Homo sapiens: one gene and its partner. Changing the gene in region 1 together with any one later gene gives a genetic interaction. Each region holds a gene or a part of one and is shown on either strand. Other genes may lie near its edges. The genes, in order: PPP1CB and SMARCB1.

What was found.
Region 2: of PPP1CB (region 1) and SMARCB1, changing one enhances a phenotype caused by changing the other (phenotypic enhancement), as found in Homo sapiens cells (one study listed by BioGRID).

The regions. Positions count from the first base shown.
Region 1 is NC_000002.12:28,754,598-28,758,721, reverse strand, and holds part of PPP1CB (serine/threonine-protein phosphatase PP1-beta catalytic subunit), read right to left. Parts: intron 1-4,124. UniProt on the Homo sapiens protein: Protein phosphatase that associates with over 200 regulatory proteins to form highly specific holoenzymes which dephosphorylate hundreds of biological targets.
Region 2 is NC_000022.11:23,789,966-23,793,606, forward strand, and holds part of SMARCB1 (SWI/SNF-related matrix-associated actin-dependent regulator of chromatin subfamily B member 1), read left to right. Parts: intron 1-1,790; coding exon 1,791-1,929; intron 1,930-3,593; coding exon 3,594-3,641.

The DNA of each region.
Region 1 (4,124 bases):
TCCACATGTGAATAGTGCAGAGGCAGAATAAAGGACAACTGCCCCCGCCCTTTTTCCTACTGTATGACAAGTACCCATCTAGACCAAGGACTGACTTCCTCTATCAAATCAGGAAAAAACTGGCTACTGGTTATTTATACTTGAATAAGCCTTGAAATGGCTATTTAAAGCTGCTAGAAGCAGTGGCTGCTGCCTAAGGGTATCAATCTGTATCCAATCACAAATCCTAGAAGACTCCACTGGGAATCCCCATCTACCACACCACTGCTAAACCTACTGACATTTACAAACTATTTCTTCCCCTTGCCTCCCTATATGCCACCAACATTCGAGAATAACCTTTCAGAAATACATAACAGAATTTAAGTCAGTATTTCTAAGAATCTTAACATTCCTTCATACCTGTATTACTTTACCTGTTAGAAATGTTTGAAAATGGGGCTGGGTGCCTGTAATCCCAGAACTCTGAGACTGGCCTGGGCAACAAAGTAAGATTCTGTGTCTACCAATTTTTTTTAATTAGTGGTGCATGCCTGTGGTCCCAGCTACTTGTGAGGCTGAGGTAGAAGGATCACTTGAGCCCAGAAGGTTGAGGCTGCAGGTGAGCCATGTTCATGCCACTGCACTCCAACCGGGTGACAGAGCCAGACCCTGCCTCCAAAAAAAAAAAAAATTAATTAAAAAAAATTAAAAATGCATGGCATTGGAATGTATACTCTTTTAAAAGTAATAAACGTGGAGAATAAGGAAGAAAAAGACCTACTAGATGCAACTATCTTCCCCACTAATCCTGACTCTTAATGTGGCTTTGTCTCTAGACTCAATTTAAATAATGTATTAAATCCCAACGAATCTTCATCTTGGATTTAGATATTTACCAGAAAAGCTCCAGGTCTGCATTCAGATAGCAAAATAAAAACACCTCTGGGCTACTTCTTCAAACTGTCAGTTTCCCTTACTTGCTGAACTTAATTCAGAGAAAACAAACACCTAATCTCTGAATCAGTTAAAAAATATGCCACGACCTTATGTCTCCTCTAGTATCTCATCCAGAAGAATCAAGGAGATAAAATATTCCTCGGGTGATCTCCCCCACTCCCCAACATGCTCTTTTTTCTAACAAGTCTAGCTGCACATCCACACAAAACACCTTCCCTACAGAAGTGGAGGTTGTCGGCAACAACTGACACTTCTTTCCAACCACCTAACCTTTAGGTTGCTGGGTCAGAATTAAACAATTTAATCAGTAAAGAGGCCTTAAACAACCTGGCAGCTCATCAAAAAGTTAAACATAGGGCTACCATATGACCTAGAAATCTCACTCCCAGCTATATACCCAACGGAATTGAAAGTATATGCCCACAAAAAAAAACTTCTACACAAATGTTGATAGCAGCACTACAAGTATTCACAATAGCCGAAAGAAAACAAAATGTCCATCAACTGATGAATGAATTAAAAATGTGGTGTATACATACAATGGAATATTATTCAGCCATAAAAGGAATAAAGTACTGATACATACTACAACAAAGATGAATGTTAAAAACATTAAAAGAAACCAGTCACAAAAGACAACATATTGTATGATTTCACTTGCATGAAACGTCCAGAATAGGCAAATCTAAGAGACAAAAAAAAGTAGATTAGTGGGGGCCGGGAGGGAATGGAGAGAAATGGGGTGTCTGCTACCGGGAACAGGGTTTTTTGGGGGGTATATGTGTTTGAAAATATTATACAGTTCACTGTGGTGATGGCTGCACAACTCTATAGTATACTAAAAATCATATCCTCTAAATAGGCAAACTGTATGGTATGTGAATTATATCTGGATAAAGCTGTCATTTTAAAATGGAGGGCTTTAATATGCTTTCATTAATCGATTTCATTTTTCAAATCCATTCATTTTTTTTAACCTTCAAAAGGACACTACAGGCTGGGCGCAGCACCTCGCACCTGTAATCCCAACACTTTGGGAAGCCAAGGCTGGAGGATTGCTTGAGCACAAGGGTTCAAGACCAGACTGGGCAACCAACATAGGGAGACCCCGTCTCTACCAAAATAAAAAAAATTAGCCAGCCAAGGTGTCATGTGCCTGTGGTCCCATCCACTAGGGAGGTTGAGGCAGAAGGATCGATTGAGACCAGGAAGTCGAGGCTGCAGTGAGCCATGATCAAGCCACTGCATTCCAGCCTGTCTTGAATAGGAAAAGTTAAAAGTGTAGTCTGTCAGCCTAACTAAATCTTAAGAGTACTATACCTGTTTCACAAGAAAGAAAAGGGAGATACGCACTAAGAGATCACAAGCAGTGTCACAAATTCAGACATCTGACAGGTCAAAGTTAAATGAAAAATGAATTTAAAAAACAAAACAGGTACAAACACATCCCACGATTTTCATAAAACTGTAAGTGGGCCAAAAATGTAACACAATCACATTTTGCTATGGAACTTTACACAGTGCTAATATTCTACAACTCATATTGTAATAGTCAAGTTCAGCTTCGTGGTAATATGTTAAAAAATACTTTAAGAAAAACTTTTCTATCACACAGCAAATCGCTTTTCGGTATTTTTGAAGACATTTCAATGACAAGGGAAAATGTTCATGATGTAATACTACATGAAAAATTAACTCATAAAGCTATGTAAAGAATATTCTAATGATGTAAAGCATGTGAATTTTACAAAGTATGTTAAGTATCTTTAAACAAAAATATATCAAAATTTCAACAACGGTTATCTCTGGATTGTGGAATTACAGGGGACTTCTTGAAAGAATGCTGCCCTTTCATAATCAGGAAAAAGCAAATTCTAAACAGTTTCATATTATCACATATATGACACATAATAGACATACTATATCAACTGGCACATCCCAGTTTTTAAATACCTGGATCAAGACTGTGGTTGGGAACAGAGCTGGCACTCTTATTCACCCAGCAGCAGTTTTCCATACTAACCTCCTCCCAAATGCATTAGATTCTACTCATTCCACTTCACTTCCTCCAAAATAAACTTAGCACTTATAGTTTGAATGAAGTTCCCCAGATGATTCTGCTATACTCCCATTTCCCACCCCTCTTTGAGAACCACTCATCTAAGTAAGAAGCTTTTACCGGATTTTCCAGAATACTCATACAAACTAGCTTCAATTTAAATGATCAAAACACTATGGTAAGCCACAAGAATGTGGCCAACAGGGTCACTACAGGGGATAAAGTAGAAGTCTTTGGTTTTTAGTTCTAAGCAAAAGTTAATCCAAGAAAACATACCGAAAGAATATGCACCGTCCAAATAATAAAATCAATATTTCTGTTTTACATTAAATGGCATGTTTGTATTAAAATGACCTAAAGGACTCTTTGAAAATATCATATCAAGGTCAGGCGCGGTGGCACATGCCTGTAATCCCAGCACTTTGGGAGGCCGAGGCGGGTGGATCACTTGAGGATGGAAAGTTCGAGACCAGCCAGGCCAACATGGTGAAACTACTAAAAATACAAAATTAGCCGGGGCGTGGTGGCATGCTGTAGTCCCAGCTACTTGGGAAGCTGAGGCAGAATAATCGCTTGGACCTGCAGGGGCAGAGGTTGCAGTGAGCCAACATCACCCCACCGCACTCCAGCCTGGGTGACAAGCGCAAAACTCCGTCTCAAAAAAACAAAAAACAAAAAAAACTTATCAATAATACGCCCACCTAAAAAAGAAAAACAAAAAGCAACTCATAAAATGTAGTCACCAGAAGTGTGTATAGCTGATCTGCGATTTAATACAGTAAAAAAGAAAAAACAATCAGGAATATGTTGTGGGGCTACAATCAGCATTTTAAAATGAGATCAGGTCCTGCTGAATGTTTTCCCCTAATGCAGAGAAATTCTTGCCAAATTTTTACTTACACGTTCATTTGACACTAAAAACACTAACCATAGTTATTCTTGCTAGGCAGCTTTACAAAATATCACTAACTAGCATCTAATATCACTGAAAATCCAGGTGGACAAAATTTTCTTTGAAGATTAAAAATAATTATTTACTAGAAAATTCAAGTCTGCTCTGGACAAGTCTTTCAACAGGTCTGGATCTGGGAAGGAGCTGAAAAACCTAGAATATTTAAGAATCCCT
Region 2 (3,641 bases), on another chromosome or scaffold:
TGCCATTAACAGACAGCTGTATTTACCAAGCCGGAGTCATGGAGCTTTGAGGACCCTAACAGATCCCCAAGTCCAGCACCTTGATTTTATATTCAGGAAACCTGGGTCCCAAGAGGGTGAAGGCTGGTTCAGAGGAAAGCCAGGAAGGCAAGCCCAGTTTCCTAAGTTCTGAAGGGGCTTTGGGGGGCATCTAGGAGACTCAGAGCCCTGCAGGGCCTGCAAGGTAGTCATAGGGGGGAGTATTGTCAATTTCTTTTAAAAAACCTAATGGAAACTCTACATTTACCATGATACTGGATGATACTGACACACAAGCCAAATAACATAGAGGGGTCTGTGCCCTCTATGTGGAAAGCGAGTGACTTGCTGTGTCTGCTCTTCTCTCAGCGTTCAGTAGCCCTGGTTGTTGATTACAGTCACTGCTGAAAATGGAGAAACATTTTATTTAATACTATGCCTGGGTCTCACACCTATAATCCTAGCACTTTGGGAGGCCCAGGCAGGAGAATCACTTGAACCCAGGAGTTTAAGACCAGCCTGGGCAACATAGTGAGACTCTTGTCTCTACAGATTTTTATTTTTATTTTTTTTAATTAGGCCGGGTATGTGGCTCACACCCGTAATCCCAGCACTTTGGGAGGCCGAGGTGGGCAGATCGCTTGAGCCCAGGAGTTTGAGACCAGCCTGGGCAACATGGTGAAACTCCGTCTCTACAAAAAATACAAAAATTAGCCGGTTGTGGTGGCAAGCAACTATAGTCCCAGCTACTCAGGAGGCTGAGGCAGGAGGATCGCTTGAGCCGAGGAGTTCGAGGCTGCAGTGAGCTATGATCGATCGCACCACTGCAATCGAGCCTGGGTGACAGAGCGAGACCCTGTCTCAAAAATAATAATAAAAATTAAAAATAAATTTAAAAATGCAAAATATATACTATGTTGCGTAGATAAAATGGGAAACATAATAGAAGTGGTCCTTCATGGGGGTGAAGTTCAGAGTTGCTGAGCATTTGGCAGATGAGTAAAGGGTACCCAGAAAATGGGAAGTGATCCCAGGTTACAGATGGAGCCAGCACCTGGCACCCAGTCTATTGGCCATCCCCTGCAATGTGACTCCGAAGTGATCATACTTGAAAAGTCAACGAGACAATAGGGTACCCTCATAAAAACTTTAGGTCTAGATTTATTTTCCTTAAGGAAGTCACACTTTCAGTATTTGCTACAAGCAAACTGAAGCCATTGTTTGAGTCAGTGATGATTTATATAGCAGTCTGGTGATTGCCTTGTAAACCTTTTGGAAAATTCCTTTGGTATCCCTGGTTTGGGTTTTGTTACTAAACAAAGCAACACAGGCCATGGGGGAAATTATCTGGCATCTGTCTAAAATTAAAAGACCTTTTTGGTGTTTATTACATTGTAAAGATATCAAAGTCTTGTCCTTAAGATAAAAGAAGGTCAAGGAGGCCTTGCATTTCTGGAAAGTGCCAGAGATCCTTAGTCCAAAATCAAAATCACCACGAACTTCTTGCTAAGCTCTGGGGGCCTCCCACTCAGGCATCTGCCCAGGCCTTTCGGAACTTGGTTCTGTTGTCAGGATGCACATATGCAGGCCAGATGTGCACTGCTGGTGAACCCTTCATATCAGCAGAATGTGTTTTAATGCTGCCGAAAGCGTGGCGCCTGGGGGCCACCTCAAGGCCTGTTTGTCTGTTGCTTGATGCAGTCTGCGCCAGGACCCTCCCCTTCCCTGTGGTGCTGCGACCCTTATAATGAGCCTTCTTGCTTTACTCATAGGTGGGAAACTACCTCCGTATGTTCCGAGGTTCTCTGTACAAGAGATACCCCTCACTCTGGAGGCGACTAGCCACTGTGGAAGAGAGGAAGAAAATAGTTGCATCGTCACATGGTAAAAAAACAAAACCTAACACTAAGGGTGCGTCTTCACGAGGGTTTGTAAACCTGTTTCAAAACCACTCGCTTATGTCATGAAGATAAAACGTTTTCACTCCAGAGTGTCTTCACTGCAGCCTTGGCCTTAGTCGGGCAGGGAGCATCCCGGGGTGGGCCGCCCTGTGAGCACTCCAGGCAAGGAAGTGGCTCCAGGGAGCCATTGGTGGTCCACTGTCAGTTATTTCCAGCAGGGCCATTGGGTATGTGAGCGGGCCGGGGCCAGGACACTAGCAGGTGCTGTGAAGACATGTTGGTCTCAAAACGTTTTAGGAATGCTGCGATGCTCTGCCATCTGTCGTGGGTGTGTCGCCATAATCATCTTCCATGCAGCCCAAGTGGCGGGTGGTGGTCCCAGCTCCCACTCCCCTCTGGGGCTTTCACTGCTTGCTTCCTGGAGCACATCCATCCCATAGCACTTCATCCTGGCAGCCAGTGTGCTAGAGCCCATGTGCATGTCCCTGCTCCTGGTGGCCTGCGTGTGCCTGGGGCTTGCTAGGTACACTAGTGAAACTAGTGGGCTTTGGGTCACGGCAGCTCTGTGCAGGGTGAAAGGGTGCTCTTCAGACACTCTGGGGGCTCTGTGGGAGACACTCCCATGGAGACATTTGGGTGTGGACACAGCATGTCCTTGGGCAGGTGGCAAAACTGCTTCCCACGTGGCAATGGCGCCTTGTAGAGAGCTGCCCTGGGCCTGGGTGTGTCTGTGAGCATGTGCGCGATGCTTCGTAGTCTGCCCTGTTTGTTTGTGTCTGTAGGTGCTGCTGTGGTTTTGTCCACTGCGGGAAAGTAGTGGTTCTTTTAATGCAGGAGCCGGAGCTTCTTTTTGATCTGCTGCTATGACATTTCCACTCACTTGCTTAAAACAGTTTCCTTTTTGTTCCCCCTCCTCCCCTAGCAGAGCATCAGTCGCTAACACAGTGAGTCCCCAGCTTTGCTTCCCCCTCCGCAAGTCCCTGGGCTAAGTCTTGGGAGATACCTTCCCCATAAGCGATTGATTTCTCCAGGAGAAGCCAGACTGGGCCCACAGACAGGTAGCTCTTGACGGAGATTCCCCGGAAGAGCTAGGGGTCGAGCTGCCTAGAATCTGTCCTGCTTCCCAGGCAGCACGTGTGGACCGGCTCGGGGATAGAAATTCGTGTTTGGTGTGAAGCAGCTCTTTCCAACTCTCTGGGCTCTTGTTTTAAAAGAAAAGTATTCTTCATCTTCCATTCCATCTCCCCACCTTGCATCGTGTTGTGGATTGTGGTGGTGTCAGACCTCTTCCCACTGGGGTGTTACTCTGGGAGCTTTCTTTTCCCCTGAGTGAGGACCAAGAGAATATGTTCTGGAGTCGAGTGTCCCCGCTGGTCGTGCTGTATTGTAGTTGCTGGTGCTGCCCTGAGCACTTCCCTCTGCCCCGAGCCAGTGCTCCTGGGGCAGATTAGTCCAAATCAGTCCCATTGGAGGCTCTACCCAGCAGGACTTGTAAGTAAAGCACTCAGTCCAGATTGCCCTTTTGGAAGAGGCCAGCATTCAGCAGTAGTAAGTTTGACACCTTGCTTTTCCCACCTCCCGCATGCGAGGACCTTGATGTGCTGCATCCACTTGGCTGGCTGCTGTGTGCCACCGCCACCAGCAGAGTGACCCAGTGATGTTTGTCTGTTACAGATCACGGATACACGACTCTAGCCACCAGTGTGACCCTGTTAAAAGCCT